2 linked regions of the Homo sapiens genome follow. The protein of the gene in region 1 interacts with the protein of each later gene in a pairwise test. Each region holds a gene or a part of one and is shown in the gene's direction. Other genes may lie near its edges.

Region 1 (6,894 bases):
CTTCAAGGGCTCTTATTCATTACCCCGTAGCGTGAGTGTGGCACCATGGATGTATGTGATCTAGGCTATATTTGGGTCCACTTTTCAGGAGTGCTGTTTTTTTTCTTTCATGCCATCCTTTGGACAGCATCTAATTTCATTCAATTGTGTCCGTGAATTTGGCCTCCTTATGGTCTTTGTGCTTTAGAATATGTGGTTATTTCCCTTGTGGTCTAGTAATTATGTGTTTATCATTGTCCCACTTTGTAACATAATTGTGTTTAAGTTGGAGACGAATGGTTACGTTCCTCAAATTCTCTACCTGCCAAATTTGCATTTCTATTTGATTTTTTCTTGTTTGTTTGTTGTTGTTTTTGTTTTTGAGTAAGAGTTTCCTTCTCATCACCCAGGCTGGAATGCAGTGGCACAATCTCGGCTCACTGCAACCTCTGCCTCCTAGGTTTGAGTGATTCTCCTGCCTCAGCCTCCCAAGTAGCTGGGATTACAGGCATGCGCCACCATGCCCAGCTAATTTTTGTATTTTTAGTAGAGACAGGGTTTTGCCATGTTGGCCAGGCTGGTCTTGAACTCCTAACCTCAGGTGATCCGCTCACATCAGCCTCCCAAAGTGCTGGGATTGCAGGTGTGAGCCACCGCGACTGGCCTGATGTGTTTATTTCTGAGAGAGATCTGTTAGAGATATTTGCTGTTTGGGGCTGTGTCAGTTTGCTTATATATTTGTCAGTCTTTGTTTTATATATTTTGAAGTTCGGCACACAAAGGATTATGGCTGCTGAACTGTCTGTGGATTCTGACTCTCATTGGCTACATCTTCCTTTGTCCATTTGATGCATTTTGCTTTGATTTCTATCTTTTTGATGTTACACGATATCTTCGTTAGTATTTTCTAGCACATACGTGTATTTTCCGTTTCTTTATTTTCAGCCTTCAGTGTTCTCTTTTAACAGTTTATCTGATAGAGAGCCTTTCTTACACTTTTTACTTTTTAATTGTGATAAAATATACATAACATAAATTCACCATTTTAACCATTTGAAGTTATGCATTTCCGTGGCATTAAGGACACTTAGTACTGTGCAACCATCACCACCAACTTCTCCAAAACCATTTCATCTTGCAAAACGGGAACTTTATACCCGCGAAATAATAACTTTACACTTCCTTGAAATGTTTTTTTAATCTTACTACAAAAAATTTCACACATCTACAGAAGTAGAGAGAATAGATTAGTGAAGCCCCATGTCCCCAACAGTGGCTTCAAAAATAATCAACTCACAGGTGATCTTGTTGTATCAACACCTCTCCCGACTCTCCCCCAACCCAACCCACCCCTCTTTATTGGGAAATAAATCTGAAACATTATACTGCACCATCTGCAAATATTTCAACATGTAACTCTAAAAGATGGGGACTTTTTAACATAACCACAAACCATTGTCACACTTAAAACAATTAACAATGATTTTAAAATATGGTCCATGCATTGCAATTGGTTCTATTAAGAGATTAAATCTCTTAATCTAAAGGGTCTCTCTCCCTTCGTCTCTCCTCTTGTACTGTGCTGTTTGCCTTGTGAGGGTTTCTTCAGCCTGGATTTTGCTAATTGCATCCCTACGATGTCATCTAACACACCCTCCTGATGCTTCTTTGTAGATCTAAAAAGTTCGACCTGATTCAGGCTCAATAGTAACATTTGTTCTTTCTATTTTTCTTGATTTCTATTGTTATTTCATCAAGACTAATTCATTAAAGGTGTGTGCATAACGTCTGCTGCGTCCGTGACGTTCGCAGCGAGGGTCATTGCTTACTTTAAGTCATCAGCGGGTGTAGTAGAATGGTATTCTCTTTCTGTCCTTCTTCATTATTTTCTAGGCTAAGTCTGTAATGAGAAGATACCCTTGACAGAGAACATTTCATTGGAACTTGTTTTGTCTCTTTATTTCTAAAACCCAACGCAAGACCTTGTTGATTTAAAACAAGAAAATGTAACCCATTCACAGGTGCTGTGATTCCTGATGGGTTTGAAATTATTCCCAATGTTTTATTGTTTGGTTTTTATTTACCTTTCTTGTTTGTTCTATTTTCCCTTACTTTTTTCTTTTAAAGGATTTGCCTTTTTTTTTTTTTTTTTTTCTCAGTTACCCAGACTGGAGTGCAGTGGTGTAAGCATGGTTCACCGTAGCCTCAACCTCTTGGGCTCAAGCAATTCTCCCACCTCAGCCTCCCAAGTAGCCTGGACCATATCGCGTGCTACCATGCCTGGCGAATTCTTAGAAAATTTTTTTGTAGAGATGAGGGTCTGGGTCTCCAAATGTTGCCTAGGCTGGTCTCGAACTCCTGGGCTCAAGTGATCCTCCCACCTCGGCCTCCCAAAGTGCTGGGATTACAAGTTTGAGCCACCATGCCCAAAATAAAGATTTGTCATATTTTTTTTCAGGTATATACATGCTATTTTTATTCTTAAGGAGACTCTTGAATTGTTAGCATATATACTTAGATATTTTCTATCAAAATGCCCACTGACAAGCATCTATATTCCTCCCCAGATAGGATGGAACGGCAATGTGCTCCCTGGCCCCTCCCAACCCAGTCCTCTAGGCGTTTTGTTTCACAGCGTTAATATTCTTACCACTATTTTTTAAATCAACAGGTTATGACATCATAATTTTTACTTATTTCTTTGCCCAACTTTGTATCATCTGCTCTTGTATTTCTCATGGATTTCTTCATGTCTATTTCTGCAAGACATCTTTAAAACAGAGTTTAGGAGCCGGGAGCCATGGCTCACGCCAGTAATCCCAGCACTTTGGAAGGCAGAGGTGGATGGATCACTTGAAGCCAGGAGTTCAAGACCAGCCTGGTCAACATAGTGAAACCCTGTCTCTACTAAGAATACAAAAATTACCCAGGCGTGGTGGTACATGTGCCTGTAATCCCAGCTACTTGGGAGGCTGAGGCAGGAGAATTGCTTGAACCCGGGAGGCAGAGGTTGCAGTGAGCTGAGATCACGCCACTGCACTCCAGCCTGGGTGACAAAAGCAAAACTCTGTCTCAAAAAAAACTGAAAACATAAAAATAAATAAATAAATAAAACAGAGTTTAGGGTAGTAATGTGTCTGAGTCCTTGCTCTGAAGATGTCTGATTTGGGTTTTTTTTCTAGGTATAATCTCTTTCCCTCCTCTTCCTCCTCCTCCTCCTCTCCCTTCTCTCTCTCTCTGAGCCTGTAGTATTTTCCCTTTCGTGTTCTGTGGTATCCTCCTAATGTCCCTAGTTAACAGGACCTCATCCATCCATCCCTGGGGTGTTCAGTGGCCTCGCAATCCACGTCCCCGCCCAGATCCGCAGCCTTCCTCCTGTGACCTGAGTGTCTCCTCCTCGCTGTCCCTGTTCTGTCCCCTCCCGCCCTCACATGCAGGTGGATGTCAATGCGTGCACGCACCCAGGTTTTCTTGCCTGTTCCCACCTCTTTATCCTCCTTGGCTGGTTCCTCCGCTCCATTCTCTGGCTCAGGAATTTGCTCCCCAGGGTTTTTCATTCCGCTCTGTAGCAGAATGTGCTACTGTTGCTTTCCAGCATCAAACTTTTCACTCCCATGGCCTCTGTGTTCTTCTTCCTAATGGGTGCCCTTTCTGCCTGGCGCTCCTGGAGGCCGGGCCCCTCTCCCAAGTGTGAATCTGATGGAAGCAGGTCCTTCTCGCCGGGACCTCATGTGAGAAATGACATGTCCCACCTGTCTCAAGGGGCCGCTCTCTGACATCAGAGCTGCTGTAGAGCGGAGAGGGGCAGGGGTGAAGGGCCACGGTGGTGCAACCCACCACTTCCTCCAAGGAGGAGCTGAGAGGAACAGGAAGTGTCAGGACTTTACGACCCGCGCCTCCAGCTGAGGTTTCTAGACGTGACCCAGGGCAGACTGGTAGCAAAGCCCCCACGCCCAGCCAGGAGCACCGCCGAGGACTCCAGCACACCGAGGGTGAGTGTGCAGAGGCCCCGCTATGTCCACGGTGATTTTTGGAGGGAAGCACTCTCCTGCCCCAGCCTGGAGTGACCCTGGTGGCCCTGCTTATAGCCCCGGCCCAGGGGTGTCTGGCAGGAAGGGGTCTCCAGACCGTCTGCTCCAGGGTCCCCTTTGAGACCCGGCAAGGGGAAGTGCCTGCCACCAAGAGCAGAGCCACATGGTGTGCTGGGAGCGCTTGCGGCTGAGGATGGGGCCGGCATGGGAGGACAAGGGGCTGTGAGGCCGGCAAGGCCAGGAAGAGGCTGGGCCCACAAGCCCCTAGGGGGACGGCTGGGGGGTCCTGGTGCTCCGGGCTGGGCAGGAGGCAGGTTCCCGGGGCCTCCTCTGTGAACCTGCTGCGCCTGCCTGTGTTAGGCCCTCCTGTCTGCATGCTGCCCCGCCTGGCTACAGCGATTCCATCTCCAGATCGACTCGCAGTGTGTGGTGTGTGATATGGTGTGGTGTGGTTCGTGGTGTGTAGTGTCGTGTGTGTAGTGTGGCATGGTGTGCATGTATGGTGCACGTGTGTGGCATAGCGTAGTGTGGTGTGTGTGTGTGCATGTATGGTGTGCGAGTGTGCGCATGTGATGTGGGGAGTCTGTTGTATGTACATGTATGGTGCACATGTGTAATGTAGTGTGGTGTGGTGTGGCACATGCTCCATGCTCCTCTGGGACCCTCGAGCTTCCCTGCCTCCTCCGTGGGGACCCCTGGGTGACGTCTTGCTGTAGGGGAGCGGGCACCGCTGTGCGATTCTGGTCGAGTTGGTTCAGCTGGTGACCCTGGCCTCCCCACAACAGGCTCCTGGAGGCCATTCCCAAGGTCCTGGTGGGAGGGGGATTGAAGCCACGCCCCTGGGTCCCAGGCCCACCTGGCCCCCTTCCCCCAACACTGCACTCTTGGGGCCAGCCCTCCCCATGCATCCTCCACCCCTGGCACCACCCCTTGCACCACCGTCCCCACACCCAATCCCCCCTCCCCTGGATCTGGGAGCTGGGATTCTGCCCTGCTGTCCCTGTCCATCCGGGGCCCCTCTCCTCTGTCAGTTCCTGGGTGGGGAGAAGGAGGGGTGGCATGGCTGCAATGGGGAAGGGGGGGGATGGCCGGAGAGCTCAGCCTGGGAGCGAGCTGTGGGGGCATAGGGGACACTCGCTGTCACTCGCCTTCCCCGTGACGGTGGCGCAACGCCTGCGGGTTTGGGGGCTGAGGCCGGATTCTGGAGGCTTCACAGAAATGAGCTGCTAGAAGCTCTGGGCTGTCTGCCGTCACCCCAGCGTTTCACCATGAGTGAAGCCCAGCTCACTGCAGAATCCATGCCCAGCTCACTGCAGAATCCCCGGGGGCCAGCACTTTACCAAGAGTGGCCTCCAGACTCCACATTTTAGGAAGGAACTCCTTCCCCATCCAGCTCACAGCAGAATCCCCAGGGTCCCTGCCAGCCTGGCACCCAGCGTGCCCCTCAGTATTCTGGGGATGAGTGGGGGAGTCCCTCTGCTGGGAAGAGGTCCCTGGCTACGTCCCTGCAGGGCGGCGGCTGAGCCCATGCCTCGGCCCCAGGGCCAGTCCCCGCCGGGTGCCATCCTGAGCAGGGCCACAGAACAGATGTCCCACATGGCCAGGACCCCTGTGGCCACCTGACCCCGGGGGGGCTGTGGCCCTCGGTGAAGCAGGTGACCGGGCGGGCTGTGGGGTTTGTCAGCTCCGCAGCGTCACTGCCGCTCAGCGTATGAGTTTCCACTCCCAGCACTCAATGAACAGCTGAGCAACTGCAGGTGCCTCCGAGTGCTGGGAGAGGGGAATGCTCAGCTCCGAGTGCTGGGAGAGGGGACGCTCAGCTCCGAGTGCTGGGAGAGGGGACGCTTAGCCACCCAAGGGCCTTTGCCTCAAGGGAGTAAATAGGGGCATTTCCTGGTGGGCGTGGGCTGGGCTGGAGAAGCAGGGCCTCCTGGCAGGGGCTGGCATGAGATCCAAACACTGCCCAGGCAGCTGGACACTCCTGAGCCTGGAGCTTCTCACCTGAACCACAGGGTGGTAACCCCTGCCCCTCAGGCGGCATCGACGTGACCTGCCTAGTGCACAGTGAGCCTGAGGCAACACGGCCACCACCAGGAGACTCCCTGGGGAAGAGGCCCCCAGACAGCGAGGTGCCCATGAAGGAAGTTCTGCACAGGGGCCGCGGCCATCCAGGAGATGGGAGGGGCCCTATCTGCACCCTGTCTGGAAGGGGCATGGGGTGAGCAGGCTATTTGGTCCCCCGTGACTCAGTTTCCCCATCTGTGAAACAGGAGGGGTGGTCTGGCCAATTGTGCGCACTCCAGCTGTCTCTATAGTCAACCGTGTAACTTGAACTCACTTCCCCAGGGCTCCTGCCAGGCCCAGGTCTGTCCACTCTGGCCCAGGCCGGGCCCCACCAGGTACCAGGGCTGTGGGACATTTGCCTCTGTGGATGGGGCAGCGTGACGCCTGTGGCGATTCCATGGAACAGGTCCTGTGTGGGCCCCCCTTGCTGCACTCGTGTCCTGTGTCAGAGAACCGTGGTCCTGCCTGAGGCCATGTCACCGGAGGCTGGCTCCCGTTCCCGGAGGAGAATGCCAGCTGCCACAGGGGTCAGTGACACAGGCATTTGCCCAGCAGGTACAGGCCAGGTCGCTGGGAAGCCCCAACTCAAGGGGCTCTGCAGTGGGCGCCTAGCAATTATGGAGCTGTGGGTGATACCCACCCCAAGCCGGACCTGGTGCCAGCAATTATCCCTCCCATTCTGCTTGGCACAAACTGGCACTGACACGGGGCATTGATTAGGTGGTTGCATTTGTCGATTCCGAGCCCATGTGTGTGGAGCCCAGGCCCTGAGCAAGCACAGAGGGCCCTGGTGCTGTCCTGAGCTGAGGCCCCTGCCCAC
Region 2 (7,034 bases), on another chromosome or scaffold:
TTTGGTTCACCTGGATTGTAGTTGCTGACTTCAGGACCTTTAGAGAATGTTTAAATTCAGTGGGATATGCTTGGATGGTTCAGAGCAGCCTTACAATACATTTTAAAAATATCACACCCACAGAAATTCTATTTTGCCCACAAAATTTGCATTGATCTAGTTCCCACTCTGTGTTGCCATTCCTAGTGATCCTCCTCCCTACCTCTCCCATTATGGTAGAAAAAAACTCTGTGTCCTGGCTACATCAAAATCTGTTGGGGTGGATCTTGGACTCAGCACCCAGGGATTCTGATAAGGTAAGTTTGAGAATCCATATTTTTTCAAGGTTTACAGGTGATTCTGACAAGTAACTTGGTTGCAACCCACTGATTAAGTACATTTTTTTTTTACCTTCAGGTGTGTGTATGAGGTCTTTCTAAATTTAAGAAATTTCCATAACAAATGTAACCTTAGTCATTCCAGTGTTTAACACTTCTGACTCAAGAATTTTAAAATTGCTAACGTAAGAGATATAGAATATAATGTCATTTCTTCTGTTTATCTGGGTGCAGTATGTCTGCATTGACCCTTTAGAAGGGCTTCATATATTTAGATGATATAATAAATTCTCTACCTCTCCTTTTCCCTTTTCTTCTGTTATCTCTTTTTCCTTAAATGTCATTCATACATGTTGTTTTTTGACCCTTTATCTATATACGTCTGCAATGATTTTAGAGTAAAAAACTGCAAGGCGTGATTTGAATAAGGATATAAGAAATTTTACATCATTTTCTTTATATTGTGTTCACAGTCCATAGTTACATGCTTCCTTTCTTGATGTCTCAGTTCGAATGCCTAAATTTGAACTATTAATTTTCCTTCCACCCTTTCCTGATTTTCCTGTTTTTGTTTCCCCCCCTTTCTCTGCAAATGACTTGAAACCAAAAGGTCTTCTTTTCTTTCTTTGTCAGTCTACCATATGTGTAGTATTTTGGACAGATCACTGAACTAGGAGCCAGAAGACCAGAATTCTTCTCCAGGTCTGTTATTAATTGGTTTGGTGACCTTGTAGGAGAGCCACTGTTTTGGTCCTCCATTTTCTGATGTTCATTGTTCATGGTCACAGAGCCAATTAGAGTTGAGACTAGAATTCCTTTCTTCTGGTGTCCAGTGCCTCATTCACTGTCCACATTGCTTCCATCTCGTGTACAAATGCGCTTATGTGCACAAAAACTCTTATAACATCCTCAAGTGCTTATTGTTAATGCGTACATGAGGAAGGAATCGTGTATTTTCATTTATGTGTTTATTCTAATGCCCATACCCTACCCCTGTACCTGGCATGATGCCTTGGTATCTAATAGGCACACAATAAATACTTGTTCAGTCGAACAATTATTTTTAGCCACTTTCTTATTTTGGACAACTGTGGTACTCCTAGACATTTTAAAAATAGTATTTGCAGGAGTCATGCTTACCTTACATTTGGGGAAAAACCAAATTTTTCCCTTCCCCAGATGTTTCATTTAAACTTGTAATTTTGAATTTCTTTGTGTGTGGGGTTTCTTTCTTTCTTTTTCTGATCACTTCTGCAATTTATAAAGGTCACTTTGACTTTGGAATCTCACTTCAAAGGCACTGCCATCCACCCCCTGCCTCTCATTCAAGTTTGCTTCCACTGCTTCCTGTATTACTGTATTACTAGGCCAGCAATTTCTGTTATTTTGTCCAGAATAGCCACACCTTATTGTAATTTCATCATTTTGGGGACTAGTCATTTTTGGAATACTATTTTTAAAATTAGAGTTAACTAAGTTTATATTTATTTTGATAATTTTTTTTGAGATTTTTTTCATTGAGTTGGATATTGCAAACTTGTACTGGATTGAGAGAATATGTACATTTAGTAAAGTATATTTGCTTTTTTTTTTTTGAACCAAGAGAGTCCCCTGAACACCCTACTGACAAAAACTAAAGGTGAAATATGATGAATAAATATTTGAGAGAATCACATGGTGTTGAGTTGTCTCTGCCACATGATTTTGATCCTTGAGGGCCAGGTCTGTGCTACACACATTTCTTCTCTGTACTACAGAACTTGTCTGGCATGTGCCCCAAATTCAGAGTCAACTGAGCGGCAGGTCTTAGTCACAGCATCTGTGACTCCTGCTTTCCCACCTTTAGAACATTCTATAGGAGAGGCTGATGGTGAGTTGGAGTGTGTTTCTATGTTCTTTTTTCCTTTGAAGAGATAGGATCAGTTGAAAGCTGACCCCACCCACAGACTTTTTTTGCTATCTCTTTTAATTAATTAAGGAGTGGCTGAAATTTTCCTCTTTGTTGACTTATGCATTGGCGGGAACTTTAAAATTCATCTAGTCTTTCTGTCCATCCCATGCTGGATCTGATGTTTACAACATTCTAGTCAAGAGGTACCATATTTTCTCTCTTCTTGAACATCTCTTGTGGTAGACAGCTCTCCACAGCAGTTTATTCCATCTTTGGCCAGCTCTAATTCTTAGAAAGATCTTCTTATATTCAGCTGTAATCCATCTCCTCATGACTTGTCCTCATTGACATCTACTCAGAAATTTGTCTCAGAGTCCTGAGACCTGTGCAGGTGATAGGGACCCAAAGAGATGCTTGTCTGTAGACTTTACTGAGCTGACACCCAGCTCTCCATAAAAGGAGTCAAACCCAGTGAGGAGCATGTCTGGGGTGATTGCTCAGGTAAAGCATCTTAGCCCTACTTGTTTCATACCTCCCTGCACAGGTGGGCACTGGTGGGAGAATAACATTTATCAAGCAGTGTTTCCCTAACCTCTCTTATGATAAGAATAGCTCAGGTGTTCTCATGGAGATTCTGATTCAGTGCATCTGGAATGTCATCTGGGAATTTGTGTGTTCAAGAAATAGCCAGGTGATTCTTACATTAGGAAAGTTTTAGAATCACTGCAGAGTGAATCTGGGAAATCAAAGTGTTTGTTTTTGTTTGTTTGTTTTTTGAGAGTATTAGAGACAGGTTGCTTTGGCTAGATCCTGTGGTCATTTTTCCCCCTTGGAAATGCCTCCTACTTGCTGGCCTCACTTAGTACAGAGAAGAAAGCTGCTATGGTATAAGGTTAGTAAAGTTGTTTGTTTTGTCTTAAAAGAAATTTGCGAAATCCAGCATTTTCGGACTTCTGTTTGTGTTGTATGACTTTGTTGTAAGCCTCCTTATTCCTCCATTAGAATGTTACCTGAGATGTTAGAATGCATAGGAGTTCCACAGCCTTTTTGGTGTCCACTAAAGAATTCTGTCCTCAGCCGTTGCAAATGGTGCTTCCTTTGAGGATTTCTGCTTCATTAGCTCATGAACACATATTTGGTGTCGGCAGTTTCCCTCAGATGTGTTAGTGTGGAGAGATATAAAGGTCACTCATTTCTGGTGGTCCTGCTTTTGGGGTTTCTGGGCTGCTGCAGCAAATGAAATAAGGAAAGGAAAATAAAGGAGGAATCTAGGGCTTCTTGAGCAGAACAAAACAATCTGCAAGAAGGGGCACAGGATTGCTCCTCTCACAAAGACACTTGATAATACTGTCCTTGATAGGAAGAAGGAAGTGGCTTCAGATCTGAAAGGATATGCTCATAGGCTTGAGACGGGACAAACTGCATCACTGGTAGTGGTAGGAGGTTTGCCGTAGATCTGTTTTTTCTCCTGTCTCTCTTTTTTGAGGAGAATATTATCTGTATGGCAGAACATACATTGTGGTCTTAAAAAGGAGAGTAAAGCCAAGAAAGGGGGATGATAAAGCCATAGCTTGGAATAAGAAAAGCAAAGGAATTATTGTATTAATTTGTGTATGTAAATACATAGGTTTCCATGTAATTCACTGGTAGGATCACTAGCCCTTGGCACTAACATTTGCTATCTTTGTAGCTCTGCTGTCTTAGTGGTGTATTGGGGGAGCATTGTGGTGTGTTGTCACACTTAATTTGTGTGCTTCCCTTGGCATCATGTGGTAGCAAGTACAGGGTATTCTACTCTTCTAGATGTGTGGGAATCATTGACCAAGTAGAAAATATGGTCCTGCTCCCAAGGAGCTGACATCATCATGGAGACAAGACAGATAAGCACACAATTAGGAATATGAAATACAGTTATTTTATCATTTATCTATGCTCTCTGAAAGCAGTTTCCTGCAGTCAGGGTGACTCAGAGCTATAGGGTCTTGGGAGTAAACTTCAGGTCTTAATACCACCAGGGAAAGGCGACCTCCAGCTCACCCTTGCTGGGCTTGTCTGCTGTCGTGAGCTGTCTGCCATTTTCCTCTTTCTGTGTTGTAATTTAGAAGTATTAGAACTTGGCTTGGGGAAAAGACAAAAACCCCTTTGTCTGGTGAGGGTGTAAATATAAATTTGGCACATGTTGTGGTGTCTATTATGTCTGTTAGTGGGTTTGCGGCAAGAGAGAGTGCTGTGTTCTTAGTCCCGAATGCCAAGCCTGAACTAGGACAAGTTATGGTGGAAATATCTTCCTTGGAAGATGCAGTTCTCAGTGGCAGTGGCTGAAGGAACTTCTCGTCACAGCCAGGCAGTGACTGAAGTGTGGTGTGGACACACCCAGAGTTGCTGCCTCAGGTGGCATTGATTAATCATACTAATATCTCCCTCACCCTTTTGTACTTGTCTTGGCAAAACCCTGTTCTACTAGCTCCCCAATAGTTTGGCCTTTACTAGGTATGATTGAACAAGCTCTTGGGGGTTCACCTTAGTGTCCCTTGCCCCTCTCGCATTTCCAGCCAGCTACGTCGCTCCAGCCATGGTACCCCGGGTCCTCTGGCCAGGCAGTGAGGGGCTGGGTTTTTCTTCCCATTGGACTGAAGCACCTTTCCCTGGAGGCTTGCCTAGGGCAGTTTCTGGTCTCTGAGTCAGTTCCTTCTGCAGGATACTGGCAGCTGGCAGAACTCTGGGTTATTTGAATACATCAGCCAAACATCTTGCCAAGATGGACTCATTGTTGCATAACGACAGGTTGGATCTATGGGTGTTGCAGAACCTGTTTCTGGGTTAAGAGTAACTCTCTCACCTTTATTATATATGTTTATTCATATGATGAATGTATGTGTGTATTTTGTGAAGTAAGGAAAACATGATGATAATATTGTGGTTGGAGTTAGATACCTTATCCTAAATATGTTGTCTTTTTAACAAATAGCATTCCTTTAAAATACAGTTGTGCTTGATGAATAAGGTGTTGTACAAGAAGCTGTGGTTACATTCTAAAATAAACTGCCTTGTTCTGAGGCAGGCACGTTTTAAAATTGTTGTTTGCTTCTTTTTCATCTCTTTTTATTTTCATCTTTTTTTGTGTGAGAAGATTCTGGAAGTTTTTAAGCCTCAAATATTTTCAATAATCTATTTTAACGGGTACCTAGCAGGGAGAGGTTGTTCTATTGGTATACCTAACCAACATTCAAATAAGAATAATTGAATACTGTTTACTCACTAATCTATTCTGTTGAGTTTCTAAGTATGAATAATCACAAAACTAGATAGTGCTGATATATTAACTTCTCTAAATGGTAAATGTGGTAAGTAGCAAAGACATTTTTGTTTAATTCTCTCCTTACACATGCTTTGGTTCAGACGCTGTCAAGACACATTGAAGTTTGAGGACATGTGTATTTCGATTATTTTATTATATTTTTATTTGCTGTGAATATGGGTTTATTTATTTGCTAGATCTTCTTTAGTTAGAAACATTAAGGGCATTTACTTTATTACAACATTTAAAGTGCATTCTAATCTTCATGAGGAATTTTAGGTAAAAGACCGTATCCTGAGATTCATGCAAGTCTTTGGCATTATGTTACTATTTAAAGTAAGTAATATGTAGTGGCTTCTCTGACATATTCTTTCTAAGAGAGTTAAGGAAAATAGTTGTAACTAAAAGCAAACATTGAAACAGTTTAAGGTAGGTTTACGTAGCAACAGAATTATTCGTTATGTTTACAGATAATTAACTCATATTTATACTTTGCTGATTTTCTCTGGCACCTTTACAAGATTTTTTTATTTTTGTAATATAAAAAGTAATTATGTTTGAAAAAGTAGTTAAGGATGTTTGAAGAATCTAGAAAAGCATAAATAAAATGTCCACAATCATGCTGCCATTAATTTTTTGGTATACGTCTTTGGTTTTTTTACCCTTAGATTTAGAAAAGCTGTTGATTTATTTATATATATATATATATTTTTTTTTTTTAGTTTATGAACAGATCTACATATATATATATGCACACACACATAATATACTATTGTCAACACTAGGTTTTATTTTTAAAAATCTTTACCATTTGATAAGTGGTAAATATTACTTAATCTTAATATGCCTCTCTCATTACAGTGATATTGAATGTTTTTTCATATCATCAGTGGCGTTTGTATTGCCTTTTTTCCTACTTCTTTTGTAAATTGTGTCTTTTACTCATTTAATTATTTTCTTACTGGTTTGAAAAAGCTCTTTAAATATTAAGGGTGTTAGTCTTTTGTCTTAAATATGTCACAATATGTATGGAAATAATTAGCAGTATATAACATAACATCAAATTGCTACCAATGTTGATATAAAAATTGTTCATTTCATAGGTTAATTTTTTTTAATCCTTTGGTTTCTAATGATATTGGTTAATTCATTTGTTAACTGCTATTTTCTGTAGCTACTTGAAAGTTCTTATCTGACTGTATCGTAAATCAGCATGCTTTCAGCTGTATATGTCTAGGAAATTGACATTTACTTTAATACTTAATAAAAAAATATGTTGGAGAAAAGCAGTGTATTCTGGAGTCAAATACATGATTTTGGGTGGGTGACGTAATCGGCTACTGTCCTCCTTTTCTAGATAGCCAAGATTTTTGAAGCATTTAACATCCCTGAAAGGCAGGACTAATGCTATGTCTACCATGCACTGCTAATTCTGACACTTTGACCTAATGGATAAATGCCAGTACAGTGGGTCTAGCCAGTTAGCTTGGTCAGAGAACAAGATGACTAAGATTCTCTCCCCCTTTCC

What was found. Proteins that work in one complex are often made in the same cells at the same time.
Region 2: the proteins of ITGB2 (region 1) and NOTCH2NLA interact in a two-hybrid assay, tested with the Homo sapiens proteins (4 studies listed by BioGRID and IntAct).

The regions. Positions count from the first base shown.
Region 1 is NC_000021.9:44,917,898-44,924,791, reverse strand, and holds the start of ITGB2 (integrin beta-2 isoform 1 precursor), read left to right. Parts: upstream 1-3,892; 5' UTR 3,893-3,971; intron 3,972-6,894.
Region 2 is NC_000001.11:146,218,988-146,226,021, reverse strand, and holds part of NOTCH2NLA (notch homolog 2 N-terminal-like protein A), read left to right. Parts: intron 1-7,034.